2 separate regions of the Homo sapiens genome follow, and region 2 is linked to region 1. Evidence: fine-mapped expression QTL. Tissue or cell type: tibial nerve. Region 1 holds a variant in brackets; the other region holds the start of a gene. All regions are shown on one strand. Distances are between the middles of the regions.

Region 1 (8,178 bases):
CGAAGCACCATAACTATTAATACCTAAAGCTTTCCTCCAATAATAATTTAGTCTGTGTCCCTGTTTTTCTCTAAAATGAATGTTGCCATGAACATCACTGTGCACATATATCTTTGGGAACTTATATCTACATGTGTCTGTAGGACAGAGTTCTAGAGGTGGGATTTCTGGGCAAATTATATACATGTTTTAATTTTTGACAGGTACTGCCAAATTACCTTCTAAAAATGCCTTACACACTAGAGTTTTTTCCCCCATCTTCTCCCCATACTCTCACCAACACTGAGATAGTCAGTCACTTTAAATGTTTGCCAATGGAGATGCAATCATTGATTGTTGCGACGTCCCCACACATTTTTAAAGCTCGCATGGCACACTTAGTCTGTGGTGTAGCTTTCTGGCCCCCTAGTGGCAAGGAGCGAGGGTCACAGTGGGCAGGCATTCAGTCGTGATGGGCAGCTGCTTTGGGGACCACAGAAGATGGTGTGTGGGAAGGGAGGCCTGAGAAGCATGGAGGTCATGACACAGGAGTGAGGCCAGGAGGGACCTTACACTGGACAGTTGTCTGTTCAGAGTCCCGGCTGGGGGTTGGCCACACCATGGGCACTTGGACCAGGAGTGCAAGCTGCAGGGTTGGGAGAGGACTGTTTTGCAGCCTGAGCTGCAGTGAGGGAGGGGCCTGTCTTGCAGAGAGCTACACAGATCAGCAACATGCCCTTTATGGACGAGTCCTCTGGGTCTGACGATGACTGCAGCTCTCAGGCGAGTTTCCGAATCTCGGTCCCCTCCTCTGAGTCCAGGAAGACCAGCGGACTAGGCAGCCCCCGGGCCATCAAGAGAGGTACAGAGAAGGGGAGCAGGGGCAGGGTGCAGCAGCAAGGAGCCCCTCACCTCTTCCCATGGGCACTTGAACATGGGCGTCCCCACTTGATCTGAGCTCGTGACCCCCCAGCAGCTCCACCCCCAGCCCCAGAGACCGGGTCCCGGGTGGGTGGTCAAGTCTCAGCAGCTCCTGGGCTGCGTGAGTCGGGGAGGTGTGGGACCCGGGCCTTGACTCCTCCTCCCTCGGCAAGGCGTCTCCATGTCCTCACTGAGCTCCGAGGGTGACTACGCCATCCCCCCGGACGCCTGCTCACTGGACAGTGACTACTCAGAGCCTGAGCACAAACTGCAGCGCACCTCATCCTACTCCACCGACGGGCTGGGCCTGGGCGGGGTGAGCCGGGAAACGGGCGGGGGCAGGGTGGAAGCAGAATGCAGCAGAGGCTGCTGGGGCCCTCAGCACAAGACATAGGCAGTAGCTGCCTGAAGTGAGGGGTCCCTAGAGCTGGGGGATGGGGGCAGGGGGCGTGGGCTGGGGGGGTGTACAGTTATGGAGTCAGACACACAGACCCCACAAGGAAGGAAGGAGGGAGCCCAGAGAGCTCCTGGAATACCAGCAATGGCCAGTTACTGAGAGCCTACTGTGGCCCACCAGGCCCCATGAAGAGTTTTCCATATATGACTTTGTTTTATCACCTGGAATACTAACGCAAGCTAACATTTATTGAACTCTTGGCACCAGGCACTGTGCTCAGTTTCCAGGCATTGTCTCATTTGTCCTCACAATCCTCTTGGGGTCATTAGCCCATCTTATGGATGAGAAGCCTGAGGCTCCAAGCTGTGCCACTACATGCCAGGGCTAGCATCCACTCCCGATGTAATTCCGCATCCCTCGCCCCACACCTCTCTGCTGCCCCATCATCTCCCTGGCTCCATGACCCTCCAGTCCTGCCTGGCTGATGTGTCCAGGTTGCCCAGACCTGCCTTGCCCTCTCCCTGCTCTGTGCTGCCTGGAATGGTCTTCTTCCTCCTCTCAGTCTTTGAGGGAGAGGCTGAACTATCCTAACAAGGCCAGCTCAGGGCCGGCTCTCTCCTGACGCTCTCCCTGGCCAGGCTCTCCCTCTAGCAGCCCCTGCTCTGCTACCTTCTCATAGTGAGGTCTTCCCCAGCTAGCATGGGAGCCCTTCCTTGGCAGGACCACCCATGTTTTATTTAGTCCTCTCTGAACCATAGCAGGGCATGGTACTCTGAAAATACACTGAGTAGGTACTCAATAATTTTGTATTTAATTGATGACCGAGTAGTGAGGCAGCTGGACCACTTGGACCTGTGTGATGTCTAGGAGCCCTGAGTGATTTCCCCTTTCTTCATCTACACCCTTCCACCCCTCAGGAGTCACTGGAGAAGTCGGGCTACCTGCTGAAAATGGGGAGCCAGGTGAAGACGTGGAAGAGGCGCTGGTTTGTCCTGAGACAGGGACAGATTATGTACTACAAGTCCCCGGTGAGAGTCTCCCCGCCCAGCACTGCAGTCAAAAGGTCTCCACATCACACCCTGGACTATGTCAGATGGGACGGAGGAGGGGGAATGTGGCCCAAGGCCAGAGGGCAAAGGTCTGGCAGGTGGGGAGAGGCAACCTCACTGGGCCCCTGAGGCTTTGAGCCACACTTGGGGACCTAAGCCTGGCCGTGAGTTTCAGAATGAAATAGGGAGGTTCTCAGAAGGACCCATGTTCCTGATTAAGGTTCCATTTAGCTATAACCAGAATCTAGAATAAGTCACCCATCATAACACAGCCAGAATGCTGGGAATCATGTTTCCCTTTGCTTATGACGTGGAGGAAGATCTGAGGGTAAATGAGGTGCTCCGGAAAGGCTCCACATTCAGTGGCTCTCCTCTCCAATACTTTCTTTACAGAGTGATGTCATCCGGAAACCTCAAGGCCAAGTGGATCTGAACTCCCGCTGCCAAATTGTTCGAGGGGAGGGTTCACAGACGTTTCAGGTGAGCACGCTCCTGGCTGCTAGTATTTTAAACAGAAGAGGTGCTGGGTTTGGATATGGCCGTGAGTGAGACAAAGATGGGGCCAAATGAGCATGAATGAAAGACTTCAGATCAACATTTGGACGTGATCCTAACTTGTGAGTACAAGAAAGGAAGATGAGACAGAATATGAGAGATGGAGTGAAGGAAGGAGAGACAGGGAGGAAAAGATGAGGAGGAAAAGAAAGGAGGGAGCACTAGGGCAGGCAGAAGGCCAGCCCCTTGGGTTCAGGGACAGGTGCCACCTCGGAGCCAGGTCCTGGTTACTCCATTCTCCCAGC[G/A]TGCTGCCCCACCCCCATATCTCGCCCTCCACAGCTCATCTCTGAGAAGAAAACCTACTACCTGACGGCCGATTCACCCAGCCTGCTGGAGGAGTGGATCCGAGTACTCCAGAGCCTGCTGAAGGTGCAGGCCACCGGGCCTCCAGCTCTGCTTCGGGGTGGCACCAAGCCCACCGTGAAGGGCTGGCTGACCAAGGTAGAGGGTGGGGCTGATAGGGCAGGAACATGTGCCTCCTGCGAATCAGGGGAGCCAGGATTGGGGTGCCGAGGGTGGTGGGTTCCCCCTTATACGGGGCTCCTTTCTCTGGGAGCCTCCTCACAGTGACTCGCTGGCCAGCCCTCAAACGTGGTCTGGCCACACAAGGTGATGGCGAGTGATTCCCCGGAAACAAATCAGGGTTGTTGGAACAACTATTCTCAAGAAAGAGAAGGGAAGGGACTATCTTGTATCCATTTTGAGGTCATTAGGGGCTGTCACCCACCCCCACCTTATACCTGCCTCAGTGTTAATAGTGGGAGGAAGAGGCCTGGGCGAGGTAGGTATGGCTCCTCAAAGACTTAAAGTATCCCAGGCCTGCCCTAAAGACATTTTTGTTAGGGCTCTTCTGGTTGAACAGAGCAGAGAAGCAGTTGTTAAACCCAAGAAAATGGAAGTTAACAAGGAAGTACATTAGCTAGACCAGAACACCAGCAGGAACCAAAGCGACTTGCACTCAGCAAGCTCAGGGCTGGCAGGCTCGCTGTGTGGCTCTGCTTCTCGTTCAATCTGTTTATGTCATTCTCCTTCGCCCGTGTGCAGCTTCTGTTCCTTCATGATGCATGGTTGCCCAAGGGCTTCAGCCTGCTGTTTTCCCTCCCTCCCTCCCGGCACCCTGACAACTGTGGCTTCTGCCACCTAGCAAGTTCTTCCTATTTTCATATGCCTGGAGGGGACATCTGATTGGCCTGGCTAATCGTTTCATGGCAGGTCATAGGTCACTGAATAGCCCATGATGGCTGGGGTGCCACAGGGTGTCATGGCACCCTCACTGTGAAAGGGGTGGTTCCATTAGTAGGGAGCCCAAATGGCATCTCCATCTCTACCATAGGTCAAATCTGTCTCCCTGTGGCTTCTATTTGCCAGTCCTGGATTTACTTCTAGAGTTACCTAGTTCTCATAATGCCAGTTCATTTCTGTCTTACAGGTAAAGCATGGCCACTCCAAGGTGGTCTGGTGCGCTCTTGTTGGGAAAATCTTCTACTACTATCGGAGCCATGAGGACAAGGTACTTCTCAGCCTCCTCACAATACCCACTCTCCTGCTTCCCCCGAAGCACATGACTGCCACTCTATGTCCTGATGAAAGTCCCTACCCCACGTAACCCCACAATAAATACAAAATCAGTTGGCTGGATCCCTCCAGAGTGTGAGATTCTGCCTGTCTGGGTCTCTGGTGCTTCTCCAAGCAAGCCTCATTCTGCTGCCAGCCTGGCTGGGATGCTATAGTCTCCACCTCCCCATCCTGTCATCGGTCCATATCCACGATTCCCAGCTTCACGGAGCCTATGTATTCAGAGAGAGGAGACTCCCTCATCCCCCACTGGCTCTCCCATTCATGGAAGACTGCTGTCCACAGCGACCCCTGGGCTGCCTGCCTGTGCGGGATGCGCACATAGAGGAAGTAGATCGATCCTGTGACTCAGACGAGGACTATGAGGCTGGAGGAACCAGACGGTTGCTTTCCTCCCACTGCACCCTGGTGATCCACCCCACAGAGCACAGCCCCACCTACCTCCTCATTGGCACCAAGCATGAAAAGGTAAGGAAGAGGGCTGGGCCTCCAGGGCCAAGCTTGGACCTGTGATTCTGATCTTCCCTTCTCTCTTTCTCCTGAGCTTCCCAAAATTCAAATTTATTTCCTTTTGGACACTTTGGCAACTAATATTCTCTGAATGGGAATATTCCTTTATACTGAATTTATTCCCAGTGACCAACATTGCTTCACTGAGGTCATGTAATAGAATCGCAAATTTGGAAAGTTGGGTTCATGTTCACCTGATCCTCAGTCTTTCCAGGTAGCCCTGACTCATGCCAACCAAACTAGCTGAACCCCACATGGGCTTGGTCCCTTCAAGGAGTCCTCCTTGGAGCTCTTGCCTCCACTCTTCCCACCCCGTCCCCATCCGATGGCTTTCCGCCCTCTTCCAGGATACGTGGCTCTACCACCTCACAGTGGCTGCAGGTGGCAGCAGTGCCAAGGTGGGCACTGCCTATGAGCAGCTCATTGGAAAACTGATGGATGGTGAAGGAGATCCAGGTAAGGCAAGGGTGGCCACCACTGCTTGGGTTGGAGGGTAGTGGCTTGGTGACTATTGGTCAAGATCCCAAAGAAAGCAGTGTTGTACCCTGAAGCTGTTTTTAAAACATCTAAGCCACAGAGGGGAAGTTCCCATCCAAGCTCCAGGGCCCCTCTGTCTCCGGCTGAGATACTAAGGTGACCACTCTGCATCTGGGGGAGTTTATCTGGGAAGCAGGCTTTCCAGGGACCTGGGTAAATGTTTTACTTGGATCAAGCTGCCCCGTTGCTGGCTGGGCAGAGGGCTGAGGAAAGAAGGTAGCTGGTTAATCTATAGTTAGAGTTTGTAAATCAACAAGTGAAGCCTAAATTGGGATCGGACTAACCTGTTTGGAGTCTTTCTTTTGCTACTGATTATCAGGGCCCTGAGGAACTAATTAATGGCATATACCACACACACCCCTTTACTACTGCTCTGAGGCTTGTTTGTTTCTGACCAATTCATATGCCCCTCCATCCAGACTTGACACAGTAAGAAAGAGGCCTCCCCTGCACACATCCACCTGCACTCAGACACCCACAACCTTGCACACTCACCCCTACTGCCATTCCACGAGAAAGGCCATGCTTATATGAGGGTGCTCATTGCAGTGCCCACCTGTACACCCCACACTCTATGGATGATAAACCCAGCACAACCCAAGTGTTGACGGAAGATAAACCACTATCTTCCCCATAAATTAAAGATGGCGGTGAGTGGGAGATGAGTCCCCTCTCAGTAGTAACTGCCCTTGCTCTCTGGTTCCGTGCTTTGGGCAGATTCGCCGCTCTGGAGGCACCCCATGCTGTGCTACAGCAAAGACGGCCTATACGCCTCCCTCACCACCCTGCCCTCTGAGGCCTTGCAGACGGAGGCCCTCAAGCTCTTCAAGGTAAATTGGGGTGGCGGCCAGGCCCACCGCTGGGATACTTGCAATACTTGGGTGGAGAAGGCCTGTGCAGTTGGGGACAACCCACAGAGGGATCTGGAGAGGAAGGGAAGGAAACTTCCCAGGGTCCCTATCACTTCCTGGATGGCAGGAATGTAATCCTGTCACTGGGAGGGAAGCAGCTCTGGAACGTCATGCACAAGTCCTTGGGAAATGCCAATGAAAACTCTCCCTGGAGGAGCTCCCCTCCTCCTGTAGTTAAGCAGAAAAGGCGAGGTTTATGTTGCTTCTGGACTGAGAGATTCGGACCTATTTTAGCATGTCCTTTGTGAATGTTTGAGTTTTCTGTTTTTGTTTTTGTTTTTTTTAAGGAATTTGTCTTGTTTATGTAATGTAATGAGAACATTTTAAAAAGGAAACTTCTATCCCAAAGTAGCCCATAGCCCCTTTTAGTAAGCAGAGATGCCCTCCAACAGTAGCAGTGCTCCCTCTTAGAAAGGGCTGTCAGTAAACTCTAACCTCCCTGGAGCCCTTGGAAAATGGCCAAGCCGTTGAGTTCTCTGAACCCAGGGGATGCTGGTCTGCCTGTGCTCACTGCTGTTCCCTCCCAGTCCTGCCAGCTCTTCATCAACGTGCCGGTGGAAGCTGCCTCGGTGGACTACCATGTGTCCCTGGCCCAGACCGCACTGCAGGTCTGCCTGGTTCACCCCGAGCTGCAGAGTGAGATCTACTGCCAACTCATGAAGCAGACCAGCTGCCGCCCACCTCAGAAGTACTCCCTCATGCAGGTAGGCATGCCAGGGGTGGAGCAGCTGACAGAAGCCATTGGCAAGGGCTGCCAGGTGGGAAAGGTGGGAGGAGGTGACTGGGCAGGTATACGGTGAGCCCAGCCAGCGGGCAGCCTCTGTGCTCCAAGCTGCATCAGTACGGCTGAGCTGTCTATGCACAGATGGGTGATTGCATTCTGGACACAGCCTGACCAAGTTGGCCATCCCAGCACCCAGAGCAAGTTGGGGGCTCTGGTTTGGGGAAAGAGTGCTGAAGGCTCTGTAGCTCAGGGCTATGAGGACAGGTGGTGCTGTAGGCCCAGCACTCACCCCACGCTGTCTGTGTCCCTGGCAGTGCTGGCAGCTCCTCGCTCTGTGTGCTCCACTTTTCCTGCCTCAGCATCACTTCCTCTGGTATGTCAAGCAGCAGCTCCAACGCCATGCAGATCCCAGGTGAGTGAACCTGGCCGTTTCCTCTGCCACTTGAGCACTGCCAACTGCCGCATGAATAAGAGGGATGAGAGGAGTCTAGGGCAGACCAGATCACTCCTGTCCTCTGAAACCGCTCAGTGGTCGTGGAGACTTCACCCATTGCCGTGTGCACAAATGGGCACGTGTGGATCTGGGCATGCTTAAGCTTCTCTGCACGCCAATCCATGTATCCACGGATGTACTGTGGCAACTCTCACATGAAGCCACACTGCTCCCAAACTGTCCCCAAGTGCTATTCTGTTGTTATGTCCTCTGGGTTCTAGAAGAAAATATCCATGCCAGCAACCTGCTATATAAAGGTCCTGAATGACAAATTAATGTCCCAGACCAGAGTCTTCAGGGCTTTTCTCACAACCTGCCCCAGCTACAGTTTTGGTCCTGGCTGAGTCTAGATAGGGATCCGGGGTGCCAAAGTGGCAGAGATGAGCAGAGCCCATAATACTCCCCTCTTCCGTCTTTTTAGAAGTGAAACTGGCCAGTATGCCACCTACTGCCAGCGGGCAGTGGAGCGGACCCTGCGGACCGGGGAGCGGGAAGCCAGGCCATCGCGCATGGAAGTGGTGTCCATC
Region 2 (8,178 bases), 26 kb after region 1:
ATTTTCCATCCACTGACTCCCACCTTGCTCCTTGGCTATAAATCTCCACTTGTCCATGCTATATTCGGAACTGAGGAAATTTGGAAGTCTATACTGAAGTCTCTTTTCCCCTACTGTAATAGTTCCTGAATAACATCTGGTTTTTGTACCACTTCAACTACTCACTAGCTCTGGTTTTCTTTGATGGTCTCTTTCTACTTTTTCATAGTTAACCCATAGTGTTAGATCAGGGATCTGTAAACTATTTGGGCCTGTGGTCTGGTTTTGTCTGGCCCATCTCAAGCAAAGAATGATTTTTAAGTTTTTACAGGGTTGTAGAAAGAAAGAAAAGAATATTATGAGACAGACCCCACAGAACCTGCTATATTTACTATCTAGTCTTTTAATGAAAATGTTTGGGCCAGGCATGGTGGCTCATGCCTATAATCCCAACACTTTGGGAGGCCAACATGGGGGGATCGCTTGAGGCCAGGAGTTCAAGACCAGCCTGGGCAACCTAGTGAGACCCTGTCTCTACAAAAAATACAAAAATTAGCCAGGTGTGGTGGCACATGCCTGTAGTCCCAGCTACTCAGGTGGCTGAGATAAGAGGATCGCTTGAGTCCAGGAGACTGAGGCTGTAGTGAGGGGTATTCACACCACTACACTCCAGCCTGGGCAACAGAGTGAGAACCTGTCTCAAAAAAAACAAAGAAACCTGTCTCAAAAAAAAAAAAAGTTTGCTTATCTCTGTGCTAGATAATTATTTGTTGATTGATGAATGGAGGATTCAGTACTGGGTCTCTGATGATCCAGAAAGATCTAATTTTGAGTTAATTAATTGCATTGAATAAGCATTAAGAAGAATGGAGAGGAATACAATTCAGCCCTGACCCTTATAGATGTATTAAAGGCAAGATTAATACATAGAAAATATTCTGGAGGATACTCTGATACTGACTATAAGTGCCAAAAGAAAAGTTTAAAAAAAAAAAAGACATTAAAGCACACAGGAATATCCCATCACATCCAAGGAAACAGGATTTAATTGGTGTAGGGGAAGTGGTGGTTAGTGACCAATATAATTAGTTGAAAGGGAAGGGGGAAGAACATTCCAGGTTGGAATAAACAAGGGAACAACCTGGAACTTTAATAGAACTGTGAACTCAAAAACAAGAAGGAATGAAGGGATGAAGAACAATAAATCCTTAAGGATTTGATCCATGTCAGCTTTCCAATAAAAGCAATCCGTGCCCTACTATCTGCATTTTTTTCAACTTCATTTTTCTGTGTAGAATTCAAACAATTCAATATTAATTTGGGTTGGGGTTAAGCTGTATGTTTGAATGAATTCCTTCAATCAGATTTCTTCTCATTCCAGATATTCATTACTCTCATAAACAGTTTTGAATAGGAAAGGTAAGAAATTTTGGCACACAGAGCCCTTAGAAAGTGTTGCAGTAGAGTTTAAAGGAAGATGCGGTCACTGATTCCTCGGGTACTTGATGGGGGTAAGCAGAGTACACCGGCATGAGAGAGACAAGTACAGAAGGGACCTGGCATAAAAGCAGGCTTTTGTTTTTAAATTTTGCCTAAGATCAGCTATACAATGGTATAAAGGAAAAGAAAGGGTCTCAGAGTCAGAAAGCCCTTGGTTTGAAGCCCAGATCTGCCATTTACTGCTTTGAGACTTTGGATAAGTCATTGCTCTTTGTGAGCCTTGGTTTCCTTCGTTCTAGGGCTAAAGTAAGGAATTCAGTAAAGCATCTGGCAGTCAGTGGGCATTTAATAAATATCTATTTCCTCCTCCTCACATGACCACATACATAGGCTATAAGAACTCAGGCTAGTACTAAAATTCAACTATACAATAAATTAAATTTTAGGGGGGCTATCAAGTCAACTTAATCATCATTTTAACTGACTTATGAACAAACTTTTTTTTTTTTTTGAGACAGAGTCTCCCTCTGTTGCCCAGGCTGGAGTGCAGTGGCGTGATCTCGGCTCACTGCTACCTCCACCTCCCAGGTTCAAGCGATTCTCCCGCCTGAGCCTTCCGAGTGGCTGAGACTACAAGCGTGCACCACCACACCCAGCTAATGTTTGAATTTTTCGTAGAGACGTGGTTTCACCATGTTGGCCAGGCTGGTCTCCAACTCCAGACCTCAAGTGATCCGCCCGCCTCAGCTTCCCAAAGTGCTGGGATTACAGGCGTGAGGTACAGTGCTTTGCCTGAACAAACATACGGTTTAGATAGTTAGATAGTTTCCTGCAATTAGGGCAGTCTTAATTCTGCATATTTCTATGCTAAATTACCATGCTCTGAAACACGCTTTGACAGCAAAAAAGCGAATGGATGCAGTAATGGAAACAATATCCAAGTTACAAAAATAAATAGCCCTGCTGTACTTAGCTCTGATTAGATCACTTCTGGGATAATACATTCAATTCAGGCACTACATATGAAACTAGAACTTATCCTGAAAATTAGGATAATTCTTTTTATTTGAGAGCTGTCACAAAGTTACTGCATTTAACCCTCACAATATCATGAAGCTGGTATGGCAGGCATGAATTCTATTTTAGAGATGTAGAAAATTGAGGCTCAGAGAAAACAGGAATGAATCTGGAAATTGAGCACAGCTATCACACACGTCCAAAATTTCATAAACCTTTAGAAAGTACTTGAAATTGGGGAAGGGTTTGGGAGGAGGGAGGGTTAAAAAACTCCCTTGAAAAACAGAGATTAGGAAGAACTATAACACTCTATCTATACACACAGATAAACACACACACTTGTGGAGGCAAAGACAGTTTGTGGAAGTCTACGTAAAGTATTGTTAGCAGTACTACTTTGAGGAGCAGAAGGGATGGACGAGGAAGACCCACTTAGTAGTTCCTTGAACTCTTGGAATTAAATTACTGCGCGCCTATACTACATAGAACACATGGCAGTTAAAGTTTTAGGCCGTCGCGCAAGAACTAGATGTATGCTGAGTGAACCCACGGAGCAGAGCACAGCCACGGAAGGGGAATGTACTATCCAGGAGCACACATTTCACTAAACGTCATTTAAAGAGCTGTCCAGCAGCGGAATATCGTCCCCAGAACCCGTGAGTTCCCGCCCTCCTGTCCTATCACTGTAGGAGGGGCCGACCAGAGGTCCGGGCTCGACCAAAGACCCCAAAGACCCTCCCAAAGCCGAACCCCCTCCTTCGAGCGCGGGGAGGGGCCGACTTGCCATTACCTCGCAGAGGGTGAAGAGTCCGTAGGCCGCCAGCCACACCGTGCAGGTGACAGCGGTGAGCGAACGCAGCGAGAGCCGAGGGCAGCTGAGGCAGAATTCCCGGCAGGACGGGGAGTAGTAGCGGCGCTGCAGCGCCAGGCGGCCGCCGCAGATATCCGAAAAGCTCCGCTCATCCTCCATGACGCCCCCACTCGGCCGCCCGCACCGCGCGGCGCTGCACTGCGCTCGCCGGCCCTGGCCGTCTCGCCCGCTCCAGACCCGCTTCCGGCAGCCGCGTCACCACGCCCCGCCCTAAGCCTGCGCAGCCTCAGTTGCGCGCCGAGAGCTCTGCTGGGGGCTGATGGTTGTGCGTTCTTCCGGGCCGGCCTTGACTGTCTTCGAAAAAACCTCGTCGGGGCAATAGTTAAGTGGAAAGATTAAAATCGTTTTTAGACCGGGCGCGTTGACTCAGGCCTGTAGTCCAGCACTGGGAGGCCAAGGCGGGAGGATCGCTTGAGCCTGGGAGGTCGAGGTTGCAGTGAGCGGAGATCATGCCCCTGCTCTCTAGCCTGTGCGAGAGAGCAAGACCCTGTCTCAAAACAAACCCACAGTTTGTTTTTGTTTTGAGACGGAATGGCGCGACGTCGGCTCACTGCAACCTGCTTCCCCCGGGTTCAAGCGATTCTCCTGCCTAAGCCTCCTGAGTAGCTGGGATTACAGGCGCGCGCCACCACGCCCTGCTGATTTTTGTATTTTTAGTAGAGACAGGTTTCACCATGTTGGCCAGGTTGGTCTCAAACTCCTGACCTCAGGTGATTCGCCCGCCTCGGCCTCCCGAAGTGCTGGGATTACAGGCGTGAGCCACCGCACCCAGCCCAAACCCACAGTTTTAATCATGCTTTTGCTTGGCAAGCCGATTTCTCTAAGCCAGAGTGAGCCGCAAGGAGAGCCCACGGGTATTCATTTCACTTACTCTTTTCCTGTGCCGGGTAGTTTGAGGTGCTTGAGGATGCAGCAGTGAACGATGTTGATGACAGTCTCTGCCCTCGGGCAGCTTCCTTTCTAGTAGGAGACAATATGGAAATAAGAGAGTATCGTTGGCAATACTATGCTGACTGGCAGGGATGGACTGAGGACTTTACATAGGGCAGTCAGGCGAAGTCTCTAAGTAAGAGGACACTGAGTTACAAGGGTGACGAGCCAGACAGGACTGAAGGAGCTCTGGAGGAGGAATTTGCCAGAAAGAAAGACCAGGAAAGGCAAACCCCTCGAAGTTGGAACAAGCTTGGCTTAATGAAATAATCAAAAGGCGAGAAAGGTTGGTGTGTGGGGAAAACAGTTGGAAGCTGGGGAGGCAGGTAGGGGTCAGATCCAAGAGGGTCTTGTAGGGTCTGGTAAGGAGTTTGGATTTCACTGCCTGGGAGTTCTGTCTCCCAAATGACTGCTTGGACCGTGGTAGACAGGCAAGACCTGGCTGGGAATTAAGCAGGAGCGGGAGATGCAGAAGAAATGGATAATAAAATTACTAAACTCATGAGTAATAGTGGCCTATGAGTTCCATTTTTACTTCTGATGTGGCCCAGGAGTGGCTATGTGGACTGTCAAAACACTTGTGATGGGCTGGGCATGGTGGCACATGCCTGTAATCTCAGCACTTTGGGAGGCTGAGGAGGGCAGATCACTTGGGTCAGGAGTTCAAGATCAGCCTGGCCAACATGGTGAAACCATCTCTACTAAAAATACAAAAAAATTACCTGGGCATGGTGGAGCATGCCTGTAATCCCAGCTGTTCGGGTGGCTGAGGCAGGAGAATCACTTGAACTTAGGAGTTCAAGACCAGCCTGGGCAACAGAGCAAGACTGTGTCTATATTCATTTAAAAAAAAAAAAAGATCCATGGCATAAAGGTCTCACCAGCTTTAAGTCTCTCTGATGAAAGGTTCCGTTTCTTCATCTTCATTCAGAATTTTATTTCCCTTTCTTTTTTCCTAAAGGATTTCTTCAAGCACTTCTTTATTTTTCTAGTTTTATTTCTGTGCCCCGAATCTGACAATTAATACACTCCTTTTATTAGTCCGTTTTCACACTGCTATAAAGAACTACCTGAGACTCGGTAATTTATAAAGAAAAGAGGTTTATTGACTCACAGTTCCACATGGCTGGCAAGGCCTCAGGAAACTTACAATAATGGTGGAAGGCAAAGGGGAAGCCAGGCATGTCTTACATGGCAGCAGGAGGGGAGTGGGGAAGTGCCACATTTTTAAACCGTCAGATCTCGTGAGAGAACTCACTCAGCATCACGAGACCAGCATGGGGGAAATCCGTCCCCATGATCCAATCACCTCCCACTGGGTCCCTCCCCTAACAAGTGGAGATTACAATTTGACATGAGATTTGGGTAGGCACAGAGAGCCGAACCATATCACCCCTTTTACTATTGCATATATCATGTGTTTTATAATTATAAAAGTGATATTTGCTTATTGTGGAAAATTTGAAAAATACAGAAAAGAAAAAAATGTAAACCACCCATATTTCCATCACTCAGAGATAAGTACTGTTAATGTTTTGGGGAAGCCTGTAGTCCTGGAGTTCTTAACTTGGGCTCCACGGATAGAATCAGTGTTTCATTTTTAGTTTCATTAACTTCTAATTAAAATTTAACATTTCTTTTGATTATGAATATGGGCAACAAACTAGTATTAGTAGAGCTTGTGATTTTTGTCACTGACAGAAATCACAGATATTTTCTTTTCACAATAATTGTTTCAAAATGTCATTTCTAGTCATTGCTACTTCAAAATTGCAGTAATTATTAAACCCATCACTAGCTATTATTATTTAATGTGTCAATAAAGAGAAACATATCACTGTAACACATTTTTAAAATATTTTGATAACCATATTTTAATTTAGTTGATTTTCTTAGAAGTCCTATGTATTTATACATTTTAAAGCATTATTATAATAAAGGGTCCATTCATTTCGCCAAACTTCCAGAGGGTCTACAATACAAAAGGTACCTGTACAGGCTAAGAAGTTTCTTTTCTTTTTCTTTCTTTCTGGTTTGTTTTGTTTTGTTTGAGGCAAGGTCTTGCTCTGTCACCGAAAGCGGAGTGCAGCAGTGGTACGGTCATGGCTCACTGCAGTCTCAACTTCCTGGGCTAAAGAGATCCTCCCACCTCAGCCCCTCAAGTATCTAGGGCTACAGGCACACTCTACCACATCAGGCTAATTTTTGCATATTTTGTAGAAATGGCATCTCACTATGTTTCCCAGGCTATTTTCAAACTCCTAGGCTCGGGTGATCCTTCGGCCTCAGCCTCCCAAAGAGTTGGGATTACAGGCATGAGTCACCATGCCCAGCAGGCTAAGAAGTTTCACAATTATAGAGTTATAGAAAGAAAAAGGCCAAATGTACTTTACTTAATTTTTTAAAAATACTCAATTATTAGGAATAAATACTGTGGTAGTCTAAGATCTCTAAAATCCTTTTTCTTTTTAGAGAGAGGGTGTTGCTCTGTTACTCAGGCTGCAGTGCAGTGGTATAATCATAACTCATTGTGACCTTGAATGCCTGGGTTGAAGCGTTCCTGTTGCCTTGGCCTCCTAAAGTGCTGGGATTGCAGGCATGAGCCACTGCACCCAGTCACTAAAATCCTTATTACTGCTTTGTGGGTTGTTTGTTTGTTTGAGACGGAGTTTTGCTCTTGTTACCCAGGCTGGAGTGCAATGGCACAATCTTGGCTCACCACAACCTCCGCATTCCAGGTTCAAGCGATTCTCCTGCTGAGGTCAGCCTCCCAAGTAGCTGGGATTACAGGCATGCGCCACCATGCCCAGCTAATTTTGTATTTTTAGTAGAGATGGGGTTTCTCCATGTTGGTCAGGCTGGTCTCAAACTCCTGACCTCAGGTGATCTGCCCGCCTCAACCTCTCAAAGTGCTGGGATTATAGGCGTGAGCCACCGCTCCCAGCCCTGCCCTTGTTTTTTGTTTTTGTTTTTTTTTTGAGACAGTCTTGCTCTGTCGCCTAGGCAAGAGTGCAGTAGCACAATCTCTACTCACTGCAACTTCCACCTCCTGGGTTCAAGCGATTCTTGTGCCTCAGCCTCCCAAGTAGCTGGGATTACAGGCGCAAAGGTTTTAGCTTTCTTACTGGGATGGATAGGCAAAGAATGTCTGTTCCATCTTTCAGAAATGGAAGTCTCCTCATCTGTCCATTTAAGGAAATGTTTTAATTGAGGTATATCCTCCAAGCAGTAAAACAGTCTGTGACTTACTTTTCCATACTCTAATGGTGTCTTTTGATGAACAGAGGTTTTAATTTTCATAAAGTCCAATTTATCAATCTTGTCTTTTATGGCTAGTGTTGTATAATATTTTGTCCTGTTTAGGAAGCTTTGCCTGTCTTGCGGGCATGGTGGCTCATGCCTATAATCCCAGCACTTTGAGAGGCTGAGCCAGGAAGATCGTTTGAGCTCAGGAGTTCCAGAACATGCTGGGCAACATAGCGAGACTCTGACTCTACCAAACAAAAAACAAAAAACAAAAAGCTGGGCATGGTGGCACAGCTACTAGGTACTAGGGAGGCTGAGGCAGAAGGGTTGCTTGAGCCCAGTAAGCCCAGCTTACTGTAGGAGGCTACAAAAAGCTGTGATCAAGCCACTGCATTCCAGCCTGGGTAACAGAGCGAGAAAAAACAAACAAAACAACAACAACAAAAAAAACTTTGCCTATCTTTTTTTTCCCTAGAAGCTTAATTATTTTACCTTTCATATTTAAGCCAATGATCCATTTTGAACTAATTTTTGTTTGTAGAGGTTAAGGGTCATTTTGTTTCCCAGCAGCACGTGTTGAAAAGACTACCCTTCCCCCCTAATTGAGATAGTGCCTTTGTTGTAAATAGGTGACCACAAATTTCTCGGTCTATTTCCACACTCTCTATTATGTTCTGTTGTTCTATTTTGTCTTC

What was found. PIP is the estimated chance that this variant, and not a neighbour inherited with it, causes the effect.
Region 2: it holds the start of PIGH, and the variant in region 1 is fine-mapped to the expression of PIGH in tibial nerve (GTEx, PIP 0.91).

Annotation. Positions count from the first base shown.
Region 1 is chr14:67,571,062-67,579,239 of GRCh38, forward strand. It overlaps PLEKHH1 (pleckstrin homology, MyTH4 and FERM domain containing H1), which reads left to right. Exons shown (of 29, transcript NM_020715.3): 10 at 691-841; 11 at 1,074-1,216; 12 at 2,215-2,325; 13 at 2,740-2,826; 14 at 3,181-3,342; 15 at 4,331-4,411; 16 at 4,762-4,944; 17 at 5,334-5,442; 18 at 6,241-6,353; 19 at 6,962-7,138; 20 at 7,473-7,570; 21 at 8,073-8,178. It also overlaps a transcript of GPHN not described here. Among named protein-coding and RNA genes, the nearest start is that of PIGH, 25 kb to the right of the region's middle. RefSeq lists an enhancer at 406-585. The variant G/A (reference allele first, on the strand shown) is at 3,147.
Region 2 is chr14:67,596,798-67,604,975 of GRCh38, forward strand. PIGH (phosphatidylinositol glycan anchor biosynthesis class H) reads right to left here and starts at 3,471. Exons shown (of 4, transcript NM_004569.5): 1 at 3,227-3,471. The coding sequence starts at 3,406. It also overlaps a transcript of GPHN not described here. RefSeq lists an enhancer at 3,149-3,468.